Regions from separate parts of the Homo sapiens genome. Here all the other regions are reported to be linked to region 6. The links are microRNA targets in miRTarBase. Many come from high-throughput screens and were not tested one by one. Region 6 holds a microRNA gene; each other region holds the end of a gene's coding sequence.
Evidence for each region. The annotated mature microRNA hsa-miR-450b-5p reads UUUUGCAAUAUGUUCCUGAAUA and lies in region 6 at 969-990, opposite strand. An mRNA with a match to its seed (bases 2 to 7 or 8) in the 3' UTR can be bound and repressed. Matches are read on the target gene's strand: a 7mer-m8 pairs with bases 2 to 8, a 7mer-A1 pairs with bases 2 to 7 and ends in A, and an 8mer does both.

Region 1: miRTarBase lists EEF1AKMT2 as a target of hsa-miR-450b-5p. Seed matches in the 3' UTR shown: 7mer-m8 at 2,427-2,433.
Region 2: the mRNA of REEP1 is a reported target of hsa-miR-450b-5p. Seed matches in the 3' UTR shown: 7mer-A1 at 927-933, 8mer at 2,167-2,174 and 7mer-A1 at 2,397-2,403.
Region 3: the mRNA of PTPRM is a reported target of hsa-miR-450b-5p. Seed matches in the 3' UTR shown: 7mer-A1 at 2,724-2,730 and 7mer-A1 at 2,205-2,211.
Region 4: the mRNA of UQCRFS1 is a reported target of hsa-miR-450b-5p. Seed matches in the 3' UTR shown: 7mer-m8 at 2,433-2,439.
Region 5: miRTarBase lists BPNT2 as a target of hsa-miR-450b-5p. Seed matches in the 3' UTR shown: 7mer-A1 at 2,653-2,659 and 7mer-A1 at 537-543.

The regions. Positions count from the first base shown.
Region 1 is chr10:124,757,785-124,760,967 of GRCh38, reverse strand. EEF1AKMT2 (EEF1A lysine methyltransferase 2) reads left to right here. Exons shown (of 7, transcript NM_212554.4): 7 at 465-3,134. The coding sequence ends at 465. Among named protein-coding and RNA genes, the nearest start is that of FAM53B, 15 kb to the right of the region's middle.
Region 2 is chr2:86,214,295-86,217,445 of GRCh38, reverse strand. REEP1 (receptor accessory protein 1) reads left to right here. Exons shown (of 9, transcript NM_001371279.1): 9 at 336-3,151. The coding sequence ends at 407. Among named protein-coding and RNA genes, the nearest start is that of MRPL35, 16 kb to the right of the region's middle.
Region 3 is chr18:8,405,775-8,408,957 of GRCh38, reverse strand. PTPRM (protein tyrosine phosphatase receptor type M) reads right to left here. Exons shown (of 33, transcript NM_001105244.2): 33 at 2,102-2,849. The coding sequence ends at 2,796. Among named protein-coding and RNA genes, the nearest start is that of RAB12, 200 kb to the left of the region's middle. RefSeq lists an enhancer at 1,733-2,377.
Region 4 is chr19:29,204,990-29,208,172 of GRCh38, forward strand. It overlaps UQCRFS1 (ubiquinol-cytochrome c reductase, Rieske iron-sulfur polypeptide 1), which reads right to left. Exons shown (of 2, transcript NM_006003.3): 2 at 331-3,169. The coding sequence ends at 2,559. Among named protein-coding and RNA genes, the nearest start is that of UQCRFS1, 6.6 kb to the right of the region's middle.
Region 5 is chr8:56,960,975-56,964,157 of GRCh38, forward strand. BPNT2 (3'(2'), 5'-bisphosphate nucleotidase 2) reads right to left here. Exons shown (of 5, transcript NM_017813.5): 5 at 1-3,090. The coding sequence ends at 2,819. Among named protein-coding and RNA genes, the nearest start is that of BPNT2, 31 kb to the right of the region's middle.
Region 6 is chrX:134,539,263-134,542,445 of GRCh38, forward strand. It overlaps MIR450B (microRNA 450b), which reads right to left and starts at 1,000; the gene lies at 923-1,000. MIR450A1 (microRNA 450a-1) reads right to left here and starts at 1,169; the gene lies at 1,079-1,169. MIR450A2 (microRNA 450a-2) reads right to left here and starts at 1,345; the gene lies at 1,246-1,345. It overlaps MIR542 (microRNA 542), which reads right to left and starts at 2,175; the gene lies at 2,079-2,175.

The DNA of each region.
Region 1 (3,183 bases), not on the chromosome of region 6:
AACTCTGGAGGCAGAGGTTGCAGTGAGCTGAGCTTGTGCCACTGCACTCCAGCCTCGGTGATGGAGTGAGACTCCGTCTCAAAAAGCAAACAAACAAACAAAAAAACTCGACACATGCTAGCTGCTTCCTACAAACCAGGTGATAGAGGCTAACAGAGATACAGCTTTGCAGAGATGACAAACAGGAAGTGGAGGAAATGGGAGGTGGATGGAAAGCCTGTTTTTTCCAAATTGTTTTTGGTCTTGTCTTTTCCTTGTTAAATTCAAAGTGATTTTGGAGGAGCATACATATGCTGTACATACATAGTAGAATTGAAAAATCATGAAGTGAAATTCAGCACAATTTAGAGTTTGGAATCATAGTTTTACAAAGGGTTCAATGGTACAGTGTTAATGCATGCATATAAATACATGTAAGTATGAGACTCAATTCTTAATAAAAGTATTTAAATTTTGTCTGACAGGATTTGAACTTCTCGAAGAGCTACCAACACCCAAGTTCAGCTTTGGAGGCAGATCTGGAAACAGTGTAGCAGCATTGGTTTTCCAAAAAATGTGAGACTTTTTCTTGGACGAATTCAGGTAGCTACACAGAATCTACACAGCAAAGTTAACCTGACACAGAAAATCCTTGTGCAAATAAATGCTTAGTAAGTACACAGGATGCACATGTTGAATAGAGTATACTGGATTGGTGAAAGAAAATAATAATAATGAGCATCTAAGTGGTTGGGTTTTAGAGATCAATCAAGAATAATTTTAATTTTCTTTTGTATTTGAAATGTAAATAGTTTTCTTTTCGATTAAAAAAATTTCCTATAACTGCTAAACAGTTAAAAACTTTAAAGTAGTAAATGAGTTTATAGAAAGCATGTATTCTTGATTTTTGTGCCTTGGTAAAGTTGATAACTATTTATGAATATTTGACCAAATTATTCCAGCATCAGAATAATAAGCAAAATAACTTTGTTAGTGTTTTGTTAGACTGTTTATGAAATATAACAAGAAATACTATTTTGTGTTGGATGGCGGTTATTTTTAAACTTAATTAATACCTGTGAAAAGGCCTCTTACCTTTATGTATATAATTAAACAAAATCAGAGAAATGTATCAGTTGCTCAAGTTATCAAGCCTGCATTTTGCAGCTATGGTCTTCTACACACTGTAAGGGTAGTAGAAGGAAAGAGAACTAAGGAATGTTATTATTTGCTAGCGCTATGTTAAGTTGTCTTATTAAGTAATTGAGTCCTTTCAATGTCTTCTTGAGGTATGTATTGCTTGTTCTTGTTTCTACGTATAAGGAAAATGAAGCTGAGAGAAGTGAAGTCACTTTTATGAGGTTCAACAGTACAGGATGGAGCCAGGATTTTTATCTGGGTCTGTCTGACTTTAAAACACATACTCTTCTCCTAGCATATTCTGCCTCACAGGTGCTTAGTCTTTGCCTTTGTAGCATTTACAGTACAGCTGGAGACCCATGATGATTACATATAAAGTTCAGTTAGAAAAGATGGGTAGTTACTTTATTAGTGTTCATCTGTGGAGTATCAGAATAGCAGTCAGCCAACTCTGTCTCATATCATCCTTCATTACTTTTCCCCATCTCCCTACTCAAAGACTTGCCTCTATTAAGAATTTTGTCATTCTTCTGTGAAAGGGTAGTGTAAGTTATATAAGCCCTCAGCGATACATGCACAAAGATGTTCTAGTTAGGGGCTAATTTGGCAAGAGAAACAGTTTATTAATGTTTTTGAAAAGATAAGTCATATTCATACTTAATACCATTTTGTATTTGTGGTAATATTTTAATATTGGAGCTAAATACAAATTTTTGCATAATTTTTTGATGATTTTCAGCTTTGTGGGCCTATTGGGTTACATAAGTGACTTTTTGTTTGGCAAATGTTACTCCTGTATTGAGTAAGTCTAACATTACGTCCCTTTTCTTTTTGGGGAGGGGTAGCCAGAGGAGTGAGTTTTTCATTTAGATCAACATTGATCAACCATTAAGACAAGATAGTTGAAGACATGTATGTGGACTGTCAACAAAAATAACATTTTTTGAAAAGCTTTTATTTTCAACATGTAAAAAGTGAGAAATTACTTCAAAATATATGCAATTTAAATTTTTTAGAAGATTGTGTTGATTTTACCAAGACAGGAGATCTTAAACTGTAGAAACTTTTATAGTTTTTGAGATCGGGTCTTTGTTTTTTTTCACATTAATATTCTTTGATTTCAAATATAACATAGATAAGTACTCTTAGAATTTTGAGTTAAGTATATGCTATTTTAATGTGCTAATCCTACAAACTAGGCTTTCTGTGTGACTAGACTGAGATGTTGAGTTTGATTCACAAAAAGCTTAGAATGGTTCTTTGTTGAAAAGCTTTTCGAGTCACTATTTGGGGCATGTTAGTGCCATTTGCAAAGGTGAAGGTTTTCTTTTTTTTTTTTTTTTTAACCATAGAGCTTTTGATAAGGTTAGGAAAAGGAAGTTGTCATCTCTTCTTATTACTCTAATCCTGCTGGAAGCTAGCTTCTTAGGGACTAAAACCAGAACAAATGGAAGGTCCAAAAATGCTAATAAGAAATTAGTATTTTCACATAATACCAAACTGTAAAAACCAGGCCAGCAAGTGTCACCAGGTTCCTGAAACAAACCATAAATACATTATTTAACTTAGTATTGTTAAATTGTATAAATATGTGGGTAACTGTGACAGAAATTATGCACTTATAAAAAGCAGTAAGTTACATAGTGAATGCTGTTTTCTGTGGATAAGAAGCTGGAATTGTGATTTCATTTAATCGAAAGACGCTTACTTTGAGGAAACTTGTTTGAAATGCAAACGCGATTTCTCTGTGGAGCCTTCACGGAATTGCTGCTTTTCACTATGATTATTGCTGCATAACAGGCCACTTCTGTGTGTAGGAAGTGCGTGTGCAAGTCCAAAGGGAATTGAGGCCTGAATGGGTGGGTTATCCCAATTAACAAATACAAAGTTTTCAGTACATTTTGTTTTAAGCCAGGTGCACAAGTTAGAGTTGCTTTTTGGGACTGGCATTTATGTATGTGAGAATCAAACCTGATATCACTCTTGGCAGCCTGACTAAAGCCATTTAAAAATAAGTACAAATTGTCCTTGAATGATTTTTTTCCCATTGTAGTAGCACTGAAT
Region 2 (3,151 bases), not on the chromosome of region 6:
AGGTGTCTCTTTCTGCTGAATCATTTAAGATAATTTTGCTCCTCAGGCAGAAACAAGAAAGATGTGTCATTCTGCACAACCGTTCCCTTGGGAGATTGAGGAGCATAATTTAAGAGGGAGGCATCAGCCTCTCAAAGGGCTCAGCTTCATGCGATATGTGGGATGGGACTCTGATGATTGCTTCCTGTTGCGGAGATTCAGGGAGACCCCAGCCCTAGCCAGCTGCATTTGGCCAAAGGAGCTGGAAGTCTCAACACAATGCCTTCCAGGTGCTGACCTCAAAAGATCCCACATTTACACCAAACTGAGGGACACCTTTCTGTTTTCTCTACCAGGCACCGCCTAGAATCCTTCGATCTCGCTTCAGGAAGAAAAGTACCTCATCCTCGGCCACCGAAACCACGTGAGTGAGATGAGCCAACAGCACCGGATCCACAGAATGTTTCTTCTCTGCCTTAAAGAGCTATTCACTAATAACATAGAAATCCGCAAGCTGGGTGTGCTTTGAGTGTGCAGCCTCACAAACATGGCCTTTTCTCTCTCCCCTTCCACTTTTAAGGATTTATTTTTTTCCCCCTTTTCTTTATTTTGCTGGGGAGAGGCTAAAGGGAAAGGTAGTAGGGGCGGGGGTGGTGACCTTTAAGTCTTCTGAGGTTGGTAATTTTCCACAATTGGATTGTCATTATAGACAGCAGTGTGTTTTTTAGAAAGATAAGAGAATCACCCCTATGCTGCTGAGATGTACATTTGTAATTTATCTGTTGCATACTTAGTTTTTAGTCCTGTAAATGCAAACACAGCATTTTTTACAACTTTCTTTGTTCTTGGTACTTATACTTTGAACTATGATGTACATATTTATGGCTTTTGGCTTTTAATATAATGGACTTGCAAGGGCTGCCAGAGGTTCTGATATGTAAGAAAACTGCAAAAACAAATATAGACAAATATTTTGATTCTAGAGAACGTCTCAGATGTGCTTATAAAGCTTCCAAATACAACTCCAGTAAGACATCCCTTTCCCTGCAGGAGTGTGGTCTATATTCTTTAGATAGTTGTTTAGTCAAAAGACCAGACAAGTTACAAACTAAGAGAAACAATATTTCACAACACAGTAAAGTGTGATGAGAGGTCAGGGGAACATCCCAGTAAAAGAGAAGAGTCACAGGAAGCTCATCTCCTCCCTGGATTCTGGATTAGGAGCTTCTGAATCTTTTCCAGGGATAGGCAGGTAGCTCACTCTTGGTGCAATTTCTTGAGGATGGGAACATGTAGAGCTGCTGGAAGGAGTAATTCTGTGCTTGACAAAGGACGATTTCTCCTTTATCGTGACCAGTGCTGCCGATTTCCTGACAGAGGAGCTTACACTCTGAGCACCTTGTTTTAGCGAACTCTAGCAAAACTTGTTTAGCTTAGCAAAAACAAACACACAAAAAACTGAGAACTCTGCTGTTTCAGATATGCCATAACATACATCTGAAACACATGTGTAACAATCAAAATGGTGGGCTCTAGAATGGTTTTGGAGCTCGAGATCTTCATGGGTTAGACTTGCTGGTCAGACCCAGGAGCACCTGTGGCTCACACCTTCTGTTCCCCTCCTGGCCTGTGCAGAATGTAAACAGCAGACTCATACTCAATGGGCACTACAGGCCTTATCAGACGTTTTATACAAGCCTGGATTGCTTAGTAGGGGAATAAGGCATTCTCTGAGGGGGCTTTCCACTTAGATTGAGAATTTTATTTGAAAAGAATCTGGTTTAAATGGCATTGTGGTCCGAGGTAGCTGCTCTCCCCACTGAGAGCTGAGCCGAAATATAAGAATAATATATTTGTGCTTCGAGTTGGTGTTTCTTTCAGTGTAATGCATGCAGTGGTCACAACCCAGTTACTCATAATATTTGGATTGTATTTGTTCGTAGATATGCCCAGAAGACTAGAGAATTAGTGTTATATACCATATAGAACTTACTGTCAGTCAACTATAAACAGGCCCAATTAAAAACTGTTCCATTACTACGCAAACACATATTAGAGGCCTTTGCTGATGACACATTAGCTGGATCTTAGCCACCCCAGAAAGGGTTTGATTTGAAGCTGATTGTTGCCAGATATGCATATTGGAATCCCATCTACCCATAGTTCCTCTGAAGGTGATTTTGTAATTTGCAAAAGGGTATAGGAAAATATACCTAAAAGCGAATTTGTGGCTGAGAGGATAAACAGAAGCTGTTTGCTCATGTTCTGTGCCCCACACCCACCAATACCTAAATCTGTTAAGGAAGACAGAAAATGTTTTCTTTGTGCTCATTGAGTAGTTCCAGACAGAAGAAGAATATACTCTTTAAAATGTATTTACCTGTTAGTTGGAAGTACCCAGAATTATCAGAAACGAATGCAAAAAAAAAAAAAAAAAAAAAAAGCTTACACAGCTTCTTAGCAATTTTTTTTTTTTTGCCGAAACAATAAATTGCCTTTAGCAGCAGTTTAAAATCCTATCGTGAACAACCTATATTTTCGCCATTTTACAATGGAGAGTTGTGACAAGTACAGGTTATCAAGTTTGCACTTAACTATGCCAAAAAAAGTTTGAAGCGCTCTATTCTCAGACATGCTGTATTATTACTTCTCATTCAAGATTGAAAAATATAAAGGTATCCAAACTCTGTCTTAATGTAAATGTAACTATTTTTCCTTCAAGTGTTGACTAGGGAGTCGGTTTCTCTCTTAAAGACACTCACTGTACAACTGAAAGCAGCTGTCATATTTCTGGCAAAATGTGTTTACGTATCTGACAAGTTGTACATTTGTGTATGAACTGACATAAAATGTGAAAGCCTGTAAGTGTACATGTAGTGGTGTGGTGTTCTGTCTAGAGGATACAACTGAATGTTTTTAATTTGCTGACTTACAGACACAGGCTGTTTACAAAATGCTAGCTGGAAAGTCTGTAATGTTCATGTCATAACTTTTAGTTAATTGCCATTGAGCACCTGTTCTGAGGAGGTGAGATGTGGACTTGTGCTTATAAACTGGAGAGTTTAGTCATAATCCCTCCTGGCTTTGTGTGAATAGCTTGCTCACTTTGCTGGCCTTTGAAATGTGTTCTCCGTGATAAGCTATCCATGTGTTTGTGATAAGAGTGCTTGTC
Region 3 (3,183 bases), not on the chromosome of region 6:
TAAAAACAATGTGGCTGCTGTTTCCCTTCTGCCTCTACGTCTTACACCAAATGACCCCTGCAGCGCACCCCATCTGGAAATATACAGAGAATGGAATTCTGGAAACACACCTCAGTCTTGCTGTGCTGACACGTTACAAAAGCATCATGAGGTGCTGCTGTGAAGCTGACTTAGAGGGGGACCGTGCCAGGGGCAGGACCATCAGCTTCCAGAGCAGTCACAGGCTTTGAAGTGTCTGGGGGGTTCCGGATGCCACAACAGAGGGGAACCCAGAGCACTGCGAGAAGACAGAGAAGGACTCTCAGCCAAGAGGGTGGCTTCTCTTGCTTGCGAGGGGCAGAGACTTTCTCAGTGTACTGGAAATAACAGGTCTCAACCATGCTGTGAGGCCTCGTGGGAAATCTGAAAAAGCCACAAAATGCCTGTGCCTTTTTTTTTCTATCACTGTTTCCGCTAAAAGGTGAAATAAGTGAAAGAAAGATAAAAATCCAAGAGATTGAAAACAACTGGCTCCCATGTGAGACCGGGGTATGACGACGCAGGGAATGACTGGGAAGTGGCGGTGTCATTAGACTCACACATCTGAGGTCACTTCCTCGCCATGCTCAGATGAGCCGTCTTTTCACCCATGCTGACGGACTGGAGCCCAGAGCCACGCCGCCATGATCACGGAGGGCCAAGGGCTTCACCACACTCCCCTGGTCAGGGCCCAGCTCACCCGCAAAGGGTGCAGCGGTCCATATGTCTTCATCCCTATTCCTATATCCTGGAGAAATCATTTGGAAGAGGGACAGACAAAAATAGCAGCCTGCTAGTCTCTTAGGAGCTTAGCAAAGAGAACTGGGTGGGATGGCGAGGGGCCATCCTCCAGGAGGAGTCTGAATGTGAGGCATTGAGTACAGACTCGAAGCTCCGCTGCAGCCAGCTCTTCCTGGGGGAGGACAGGGTCCCACCCACCCAGTTTAAGGAGGGGTCTAGAGAAACTTACACCAATCGGGGCATATAGATTGCTCAGGGTACAGCGAAGCAGTAAAGGTCTAACACGCAGATGTCCAGGTCAGTCCTCTTGGAGGGCAACCTCTGCCCTTGAAGTCTTTGGTCACCAAGATCCCCAGAGCAGGCAGGAACAGTGCCCTCAAGCCTCTCCACTTCCCACAGCGGGTGGCGGGCCAGTCTCTGTCTCGGCACTAGCAGACTCTGCTCCTCTGCCATGGTGAGGGTGCTGCCCTTCCACCTCCCATGGGCTCTGGAGGCTTCTGGCACTTGCTAGCCAGTGTGACTTTGGACGGGTTATTTAATCTTTTCTAGCTTGAGTTTCTTCATCTGTCAGGTGGGTTTCGCAGTTGTACCTGGCTCATGTTTGGGGAGCACGTGCTACCACACAGGAAGATGCTCTGCATGGTATCTGGTTCACAAGAGGTGTTCGACAGAGCTTTGCCTCTGTCAGCTCTTGGCAATCGTTAACACAGCCTAAAACCCAAGCTAAATGCAAGCTGCAAGGCCACCGTGCACCTGCCTTCTGTGTCAGCGGCCAGAGCCCAGGGTGGCGCAGAGCAGGTGCTCTGGTGGGAACTTGTTCAGCTCGGTGTCCTTCAATGCACTCTGATTCTCTAACCCTTTAAAAACTGTTCTCTCAGCAAGTCTTAGGTTGGCCTGAGGCATAGAGAAGAGAGATATTATCCCCCGCAGACTGAGGGGAAACAGAGAAAGGAAGACGATGCTCCAGTTAGCAAGTCTCTGCCATGGCCCCTGGCCTGGCTGCCCCACAAGGTCAGGGCTCACGCCCCATGGTGCAGGCTCATGGCTGAGCCTCCCCGGCACCAGGGCAGGCCACCGTGAAGGGCTCAGTGCTCTCACTGACGAACACTCTCTCTCAAAAAAACTCTACTCTACTTGCTCCGGCAAACAGGCCCCGGCCGCACTCTCTCCCCCTGTGTGCTGGCGTGTCGGGTGCGGCCTCCACCGCCTGTGCACTGGGACACCAGGAACATGCCACGGCTGCTCACGGGTCATCATTTATTGAGATGAGAATTCACATAAAGTAACATCATACAGAAAATCGTTTCCAGGCCTTAAGAAAAATGATTGTCACTCACTGTGCTTCACAAAAATTTCTTTTAATGAATAAATAATTTGATGAAATCAAAAATATTTACAATATAAACACATGGAAAAGCTCTGGGTCCGTGAATCTGATCGTTGAGTTTTGCATTTTGTGAACTGAGTCCTCCCCCAAGCTTTTCCCTTGGAAACAATACAAATCTGACAGAAACGACGACTCATACAACATATCTTTGTTCATTACACATTTATCTGTTAGTCCTGGAAAGCTACATAAGCATATATTATGCAACATGTTAAAGTACAAATATTACCTAAAATAATATATTACCATAATGCCAGATAGCATTCTCCACAGAACAAAAACATACACTCAGCTGTAACAATAACGAGGGTCACGGGCCACAAAATAATACCCCAAAGGTACAAATTCCTTCATAAGAATATAGTTGTGCTCTTCAGTTTACCAGCTGTCTACGCTGCTCTAGGAAGCCGGTGGCAAGGAGTACGGGATTTGGCAACTGTGGCTGTGTGTGTGTTTCTGTCAGGCAGCAGCATTACTGGGATTGGGCAGTGCAAGCAATTTTAGAAACACTTTCTTGGGCTCTTAAAAAGAGCCAATTATGCAAAGCAAAATAAGCATATTGAGAAGTCTTCATCTCTTTTGCACAAATACCATGGAACGTCTTGGCTTTGTGGTATGAAAGGGATTGTTTGCAGAGCTGTTTACACCATCAGCCAGAATTCAAGTATTCCAGGGCCACCTCGTAGCAGAACTTGTACTGATCCTGGAAAACAGGAGGGGAAAGTGTCAGCTCAAGAATATCTCAACGCTGTTCCTAGTAAAGCAATTACCATAGAGTAGGGTCTTAATGGGAAGACATCAATCTGGGAGGATTTGAATTAGAAATGAATCAGAAAGTCACGGTTCTGAACTCCAGATACATTCACTGTTTGGAGATGCTCCCCACAATGCTGGGTGGAAGGTATTTTGCTACCTGTGCTGGCTAGAATTCCCGGAAGGTTCTGGACACTTGGAACTCTAAATATGTTTGTCCACACATGTATTTTCCAGGATATCAACATGCTGAGCTTTGTGCAGGAGGGTCAGGGGTAGAAGAG
Region 4 (3,183 bases), not on the chromosome of region 6:
GGGAAAACTAACAGGTTTTTCGCCTGGCGGGTAGTTAACAAGGTCGATGGAGAGGCAACTGACTAAAATAGAGAAGCTGGTTCATTGGAAACAGAGATGACATCTTTTCCTTTCAGACAGTTTGAGTTTAAGGTGTCAACAGGACATCCAAACATATATGCCCAGTAAGCACATGAATATGAAACTCAGGGAAGTGGTTGTGGGGAGTCACCAGCAAATAGGTGGTGATAAAGTGTGTTAGAACAGTGGGCTAAGGATAACAGTCCATAAAATATAAACATTATTTTGGGTTAATATACAAAATGCAATGAAATTCAAACGACATGAAAATACAGAAAATGAAATTTAGTACTGTGAGAATGAAGAATTACTTCTGATATTTAAATAGTATGTTCCTACAGTTTAGAAAAATGAGGGTACTAAAGCACATTTTGATCCAGTCAGGACAAATGCCCTCTATACACTCAGATTGAGTCAAAGTTTTTACAAAGGTATGCTCAGAAAGACCAAAGAAAATTTGATGTTATCTTTAACAAATAATGCAACATTTTCAAAAAGGCCATTTTTATAACACTTTTTAAAGCATAATGAAAACACTTGGCTCTCAAGATTGTCCCAAGAATTATCCCCAATAAAATGCAGTAGGTTAATGATCTGATGTCAGGGTGCTAGCTGGTCAGGTTTATTCTGTAAGTAATTTTCTCCTACTATCTAGGATTTTGTTTTCACAGAATGGTAAAAATGTTAACACAGGTCTGCCGTATCCATTCAGCAAAACAGCATGAAGTGACTTGACTTGTCCTGTCACTTGTGGAACAAAGCCTTCTTTAAAAACTAAATGGTCTACTACAATTTAACAGCATCCCACCATCAAACTCTAAATATGAAAGATGAAGTAAGCAGCCACCAAATATAGCAATTCCGGCACTAAGTGAGTACCTAGAGACCTGCAAACTTCCTACTTCTGTCCTCCACTGCCATGTAGAATTTCAAGGTATCACTTCAGGGTGGGAGGTGATATAGGTTATCAGTATTTCTCTATAGGGAGGGGGTGCTGTTGACATTTTTGGCAGCACAGGTTTTTTAGTGTGTGGACCTGTGTTCCCCTCACAACTCAATGTTTCACATTCCAACTCTGCCACCAACCCTTCCTCCAACCCCCAATCCGAAGAGTGCCTCCACTATCTAGAGACACAGAATATAAAATACTTCTGTGTCCCACCAATTATCACACATGCTAATTTCATTTCTAGAATGGTAAAAATGAAGCAAAGACTAGTATCTACTCATAAGCATAGAAAGTTTGACATTTTCTTTTTTCTGTCAACACCTAGCTATTAACATCAAAGGCTGGAATCCTGGATGGTCAGTTCCCTTTGGGCAGACCCAACCTAACCATTTTTGCCATTTTAAAAAAGTGTACATGAGATTATCAGGTAGACTCAGTAAAGCACGACTGGTCCACCTCTAAACAGCAAAGACAAACACATCAAAAAGTGACTGTGATTCTCAAAGGACAAAGCCCACTCCCAACTCCCAGGGGAAAATGGACCTTAGTCTTGTTTCACCTGTGTAATTGGAGGCAGAATAGGATGTGAATTCCGATGTGCTCTGCGTCTGGTTCCACACCATCTTACAGTGAAAAGTGCTGAGTGACTGTAAACCCAACAGGAAAAAACATTCAAAGTGTCATCACTACAGAAACAAACCCAGCAGGACCACTTCTGCATGCAGGCAGTATTAGGTCTCAGATGCTCCCTTTCTGCCTCCTGATAGAGTGGATGCAGGAACTTTGGGGACATGATGAACCACACACAAAATGAACGAAATGGCAGAGCACTCTCATTTTGGAAAGTTTCTCTCAGGTAATATCCCATCACTGCCTATTAAGACTAAAGGATTAAGTACTAATTTACACTCATAAGGGACTAATAAAATTTCCTGGCCTGTCACTTAAGGAGAAAAACCAGCAGACCAGACGTGAAGATAAACCCTCAGAGCTACTAATGCCTCATTCAGGACTCTTTCCCACAGATTAGTGTTGAGATTATCACACGGCTTACACAGTAGGGAGGAAATGCATAGCCAGGACTCTTACCAAGTCCGGTAAATAAGGAATACCTAGATACTACTGTTTCTGTCAATGCCATAGACACTTAGATGACCCGTTAATTTTACTTCATCCCAACAATGACCGTGCAGAATCTGCGTCCCTGACGCAAAGCAGGAAGCAAATATTTGGGCAAGAAAATAAAGTCAGTTACAGATTTCACAAGTATCTTGTACACCAGTCTGTAATTTTTAATTAGAATTAGCTAAAAGACATTGTACCTTTCGCGTGTATGACTGAGCATAACAGTGCTTAACAGTGTCTTTATTAAGTGAATGCCTGAAAGTATTCAACATTAAATTCAATTTATTTCACATTAATGTTTGCAAATACATCATCAATTCTTACATATTTCAAATCAACTTCAAGTACAGAAGGCTTCCTCTCAAATAAGTCTCCTGAGGTGACATAAAGACTGAAAGAAGCCTATGACTTGAGTCCAAGTCTCTTAACCAACAATCACCATATCGTCACTGGTGAACTCATACGTGGGGACTTCAAGGTTGAGAGGAGCAGGACCCAATCTGATCCTGCCAGATGCATCATAGTGTGACCCATGGCAAGGGCAGTAATAACCACCAAAATCTCCTGCATTTGCAATGGGTACACAGCCAAGATGAGTGCAAACACCTATCAGGATAACCCATTCAGGTTTCTTTACTCGATCTAGATCATGCTGTGGGTCCCTCAACTGTGATAATTCAACTGCAGCTTCCTGCTCAATTTCCTTCTGGGTTCTATGACGCACAAACAGGGGTTTGCCTCTCCATTTGAAAGCCATGTTCTTGCCTTCTGGAATATCGGATAACTTGATTTCGATTTTCGCCAGGGCCAACACATCAGCAGAAGCACTCATGCTGGAAACGAACTGGGTGACGGCATTCTTGGCAGCATATGCGACACCCACAGTAGTTACTCCAGTTACCAAATAGGAGAAACCTTTCCTAGCCTCGCTGCTTTCTCTTGAAGACTTCGTACTATCTAAAACTTCAAGGCGGCGGTATTCAGAGAAGTCAGGCACCTTGATGTCTGTGTGGGAATAACAAACAGAAGCAGGGACTGCAAGACAAACA
Region 5 (3,183 bases), not on the chromosome of region 6:
GTGAGGGAAGTATCCTGGCTAAGAAAGAAAAGCAGAGATAAAGGAGAACATGAACCGGTAAGGGAAATGGTCACAAGGTAGAAGAGATGAAGAAGGGCAGAGGAGGGGGACAGCTGATGGGTACTGAGATCACTGATGTCACTGCCTCTACTAAATGTGGTGCATAAAAGTCATATTTTAAGAAAAATTGCCTCAAAATAAGGGCAACAGTGAAGAAAAGACCAGGAGCTGGTGAGGTGTGGGTCATTAAAAGCAAAAGGTAATGACTTTGCTACTTTTTAGAAATAATTTTAATGTAATTCTGGGAGATAACATTACTCATTCATGAAGGTGTTTTACTAGGATGCTATGGCACAATGTCTTGTGTAAATAAATATAAATACTGTTCCTAATTCTGCAACGTATATTGGCTTTTAAAAACAAACAATTTTAAAAATGAACTTTTTATAAAAGTACTTAAAAAAAATCATTAGTAACTAGACTATACCCAACATATTATAAAAATAATGTATTTAACTCTCAACCAATACCTTAAGTTTTGCACACAACACACACCCTTCACAAAGTCATTATCTAGATGCAGATTAATACAATTAAAAATAAAAATAAAATCATCACTTTGGGAGGCCGAGGTGGGCGGATCACCTGAGGTCGGGAGTTCGAGACCAGCCTGACCAACATGGAGAAACCCTGTCTCTAACAAAAATACAAAAAAATTAGCTGGGTGTGGTGGTGTATGCCTGTAATCCCAGCTACTTGGGAGGCTGAGGCAGGAGAATCGCTTGAACCCGGGAAGCAGAGGTTGCGGTGAGCCGAGATCACGCCATTGCACTCCAGCCTGGCCAACGAGAGTGAAACTCTGTCTCGAAAAAATAAAATAATTCCTGCTAATATGAACTAGTTTGCTTCCCATTAAATCAGAGTTCCCATAAAACATTGAAATTAAATTCCATTTTTTACTTGCCAGTCCCATTTCCCTAACTTTGACATACTATAATAAAAACAGATGCTTATACCACAGGACTCTGGCAACAGCATATACCTTTGCCATCTCTCCTGAAAAAGAAAGTTTCTTCAGCTTATTGCAAAGGAAAAAAATGAGGTCTCTGATACTCTTTTCAAAATTTTCAAGTCCTATTTAAATATCAAGTGTTCCACCTACCAAAACTTTGAATGAATTTTCACTGAAAAGGCCTACTGCTAAGGCCCAACACCTTCTCGAATTTGACCAGTTGCAAGAGATTGGGTGAAAACATTTGTGTCATATTAGATTCAGTTTACTAATAAGAAAGTAAAGGGCTTTGGACAATGTAACATACAAACCTAAAGTATGCACATTCCACCAGGCTAGAACGTACATTCTTTGGTCAATTTTACTTCCAAGATGGGAAAATAAAGGGTAAGCTGCTTTATGGTTAAAAAATTTAGCAAAGAAAGAAACCGTGAGAAATCCCTCTCATCAGCATGTTATGGAATACAAGGGCACTGGAGTCACATGAAATAACGGCATGGGTAGTTTACATGAAGTTTCCAGATTTCACATTGAGAGAAACCATACATCCCAATGAAAGACAGTTCACAAAGCAAGGTTCTAGTTACGGTAACACAATGAATATGTCACAACTTTTTTTTTCTAACCAGACTAGAAAAAAATTTCATCAAAAAGTACCTTCAACCTTCTCTATTTTAATCTGAGGGGAAATTAAGAGAATCTCAAAAGTTACTACAGAGTTTGGGTAGGCTAGATACATTTATTAATAGTAAAAGCAACCATGGCAAAAGCAACCATACTCATTCTTGATAATGAAAGGATCTTCTATATACAAACCTAGCAAATTAAAAAAAAATACTAAAACAAAGTGTCTGAAGATAATGAAAGGCAGTTCAATTCATGTAATGTCAAGTAACTTTCAATTGTAATAGAATCATTTATATTCTTATAGTGCCTTACAGCATATTTTATCGTTAATGAGAAAATGAACCAAAACTATAGTGCTAACCCTGAAACCTTAAACCGAACCTTACAAAGTTAAAGACTAAGTGTTGGTCAGAAGGAAAAGGATGCAACCATGCATCTTCCACAGGGAAAATGAAAATAGCAAGATGGCAGAAATGCTGAACTCATGGGTACAAACACACTTTTCTTTATAAAAACAAAACAACACACACACATACACACAGAAATTATTACAATGCAAATCATCATGTGTCTCTATTTTCTACCAGCTGGTGAACCTGTTATTAAAATTTAAAAGAAAAAATCAATTAAACTTTTTCTATTTTAATCCATAGAAATATTCAGTAACATAAATACAACATTTGTTGCATATTAATGAATGTGTGGCTTCTTGTGCTTTCCATCCAAATTAGAGGTAAAAATCCCCAATGACTTTATTTTCAATGAGATATAGTTGTAAAGTTATATTAAACATCTACACAAAAATCAATCTTTCCTTCAACCGAATTCTATATGAAAGTACTAACAGTGAAGATTCATGATGTTGTGTGAAAATGGTGACTCATAACAATGTAGACTCAGCTACAGATTTTAATTCACAAATATATATATGCGCCTTGTGTATGACAACTGTATGAAAATAGTCTCAAAAATAAAGACAATACTTGAGACACAAAGCAACCCATTTTCCCTGATTTTGCATTCTATTACAGGGAAAATAAGTCTCTGATGCTTCATAAATACTTTAAAAAGTTCGGGATGGCCTTAACCATGCATAGTCTCCACCAATCCTTTGAAGCTTCCAGCATCTCAGGCTAACCATTTCAGCTGTGAAGAACTGTACCCTGTAATCAGTTATGCTCATTTATGTCCTGTCTTTTCTAGATCTGGGAGTTTTCTGACCAGGGCCTGGTGGTTCATTCTGATGCTAGCAAGGAGTCCCCCTTCAATGCCGTCTGAACCAGTGTAACTGATTTCTTCACCACTCAGGGTAGTCATATGCCCCCCTAGGGCTTTTAAGATGGCATTACCAGCACATATATCCCACTTTTTGATGTATGTCACATGGATGTATAAATCAGCTTTTTCTTGACTCTTATCAGGCACATCCAAAAGTGCTAAAACTTTATAACCTAAAAGATAAACAAAGAATTTAGGTTATTATTCAAAAAATTTTAAGAAAGTAGCATACTTTTTTGATTAAGTATCCTGTTAAAATAGCAGGA
Region 6 (3,183 bases):
CATATGGACTTGCTAGAGTGCCAAATATGTCCTTGGTGGGGGAACAGTTTCCCAAAATGCTACTAAAAAGATAGGAAGGAACTTAGATCCTCCTGTAATGTGTCTCTGTCCAAATCAGTGCCACTGAGGAACGCTAAAACCTTGGTAGGTGCCCTTCAGACCATGGGCCAGGTACGTGACCAAATGGTTCCATCTCTTACCAGAACAAGGATCGCCTAAATTGAGGTGTCACATGTGTTCTGCAACACCAGAGTTACTATGGAGCTCAGCTGAATTTGCGGGAAAATGCAGGGGGGGCTTTACCCGCATCTGCAAGAAGTTGGCTGAGTGGAAATAACCTAAATAAGGTGTTTTCCTGACTTGGGCATATCTCAAACTGGCCAATGCGTCTTGAGGCCCTGGGCGAGCATCCAAGTACCACCTTCCTGAATTGCTACTAGAGGAAAAGGAGCCTGTTTCAGCTTTCTATACTTCTTTAAATGTTACTTTGATTAGACATAGATAGCAGTTTGTTTACTAATATTACTATTATAACTCTGTCGTGGTTATATTTTTTAGTTATACTTTCTCTTTTCTTTGCCAAGAGCAAATGAAAACACATTTGCACTGCAGATCCAACTGAAGTTGTACAAAGGTTTCCCAGATATGTTTGAAAAAGTATTCTAGGCCCACTGCTGGCCAAATAGGAAGTCTTCCCCCACCCTTATGTCAGGGGTTCATGCTTTAAAAAAAATACAAACTCTTTTTAAAAATAAAATGTTTTATTATTGCTATAAAAGCAATGCATTTTATTGTTTATGCAAATATTACTTGGAAAATACATAAAAGTATAAAGAGAAAAACAAACATTACCTATAATTTTATACTATAATACTGTTACAAGTTTTGGTATATTTCTTCCTAGACTTTTCTCCATATGTTGATACAAAACTATGGATGCAAAATGATCCCAATACACTTATATTACATATTCAGGAACATATTGCAAAAATAATTCTGCATCTTACATTTATCACAGAAGTAAACCACAGATAGCCGCTGTTAGATTTTTTGCTTATTCCCTCCATCTTTTCATCTGTATATTGATACAAAACTATACATGCAAAATGTTCCCAATATATTTATAGTGCATATTAGGAACACATCGCAAAAACAGTTTAGTATCGTTTTTGATTGCCTATAGTGACACAAGTCAGCGATAACCACCTCTAGACTTTTGGTATACTTCCTGATAGCCTCTTTTCCCCATATTATTGATACAAAACTATGAATGCAAAATGTCCCCAATACATTTATATTACATATTAGGAACACATCGCAAAAATAGTTTAGCATCTTTCTTTGGTCACCTTTATACCACAACTCAGAGATAATCACAATAAAGTTTTTATATGTTTCCTCCTAGCCTTTTATCTGTATGTTGATACAAAACTATTCATACAGAATGCTCCCTATATACCTATATTGCAGAGATGGGAAAATATTTTGCACCTTTTTTCAATCGCTAAATGTTTTATCAGGAGCACATTCTCATGACATGAAAATTACTTTCAGAAACATTATTTTACATGAAAGCATCCTATTCTATTGTACTAGCTAGCTACGCTGTATTTTATTTGTCTAATCCTTTGTTGTTGGTCATTCAGGATGTTCCTAACTTCCATCCTTAAAATATTGAAATGAGCATCTTTATGCATTTTTTTTAACTGGGGCTTTCTGTTCATGTAGTTTTTATGGTTTTTCTTGACCACTTGTGTGGACTCAACATACTAAAAATGACCCTGTGTCTGTAATGCTTATAGCAAAGTGTTTTCCAGTTGTTTGCTTGAGCATAAATTCTTTATTTTAGCATTCTAGCACAAGTATAAAATCATATACCTTATGTAAGTTTCAATTCATTCAACAAACATTTAAAGCAATAAAGACACAAATAAAGGCATTCCCATTACACTCCTATGAAAACACAACTCATCCTCCCACCCCATCCCATAGCAACCCCTTTCTTCTTTGCTTAGGGCCCACTTTCCTCCTGATCTTTTCATTGATTCGTCTTGTAATACTTACCACATGTTTTGCTATGAAGATGAGTGGCTCCCAGACCTTTCAGTTATCAATCTGTCACAAGTGCACACTGGTATCTCGTGACATGATGATCCCCGAGATGTCTGAGATCTGTGCATCCTTGACCGATCCCAAATTTCTGTATCACCCATGACCCCTAAAGACTTTTTAGAGAATTATATTTTGACAACATAACAAGAAAACGTGGCATCTCACACACACACACACACACACACACACACACACACACACACACACACAAAACCATGAAAAAGTAGAGAAAGAAGAAACTTCAGCTCTAATCCCACCACCCTTAAGTAACAAGTATGTCTGTTTTGCAGGTTTCCTCCAGGTTCTGCTCCTATTTTTCAATCATGGTGTCCATGTGATTTTGTGGCCCTGATTTTTTTTAAGTTGATATCATAAGCATTTTCCAGGTTTCTGTATATTCTCTATCATTATTATTTGCAATGGCTGAAAAAGGTTCCATTGAGTGAGTGACTAGATTAAGTCAACCCCTATAGCTTGACACTTCATTTGTTTCCTTAAGATAATTTGATTGAATCTACAGAAAATAACAAACATGGGACAGAGGTTTAAAATGAATTTAAATCATGCTTTTTTGGTTTGTGCAGATTGACTTGTACACGGCTGGGTAACTTATAGTCACTATTTAGTAATCCTGGGGCCAATCTTGGGCCTCACCCAGGAAGTGTCCAATGTATAGGCCAAAGCTCATCATAAGACTAGCCAGTTTCACCGGGAATTTTTGTAACCAAACACATTCACCTCCATTTCCTGCTCTGGTCACTACTGCATAGTCGGTTCTGATGAACAGGTAATGACATAAGGAACACAGTATGAGGCCTGGAGGAAGAGCCCCCAGAGAGTAGCCTCAGACAAATCCTTAACCTCCAGAGGCCCCAGTTTTCTTGTCTGTAATTATTTTTTGGACTGCCTTAACTCTGTTTGTCTTTCAAGGTTGTCACAAATTAAAAAAAGAAAAAAAAGAAAAAACAAAGTATTTGGAAAAGTATGTAAACACACGATACAAAGGCAAGATGTTGGGATACTGATGATTCTGTGGCCACGCCTTTAGAAGGTCTGGTCTTAGGGTAATAG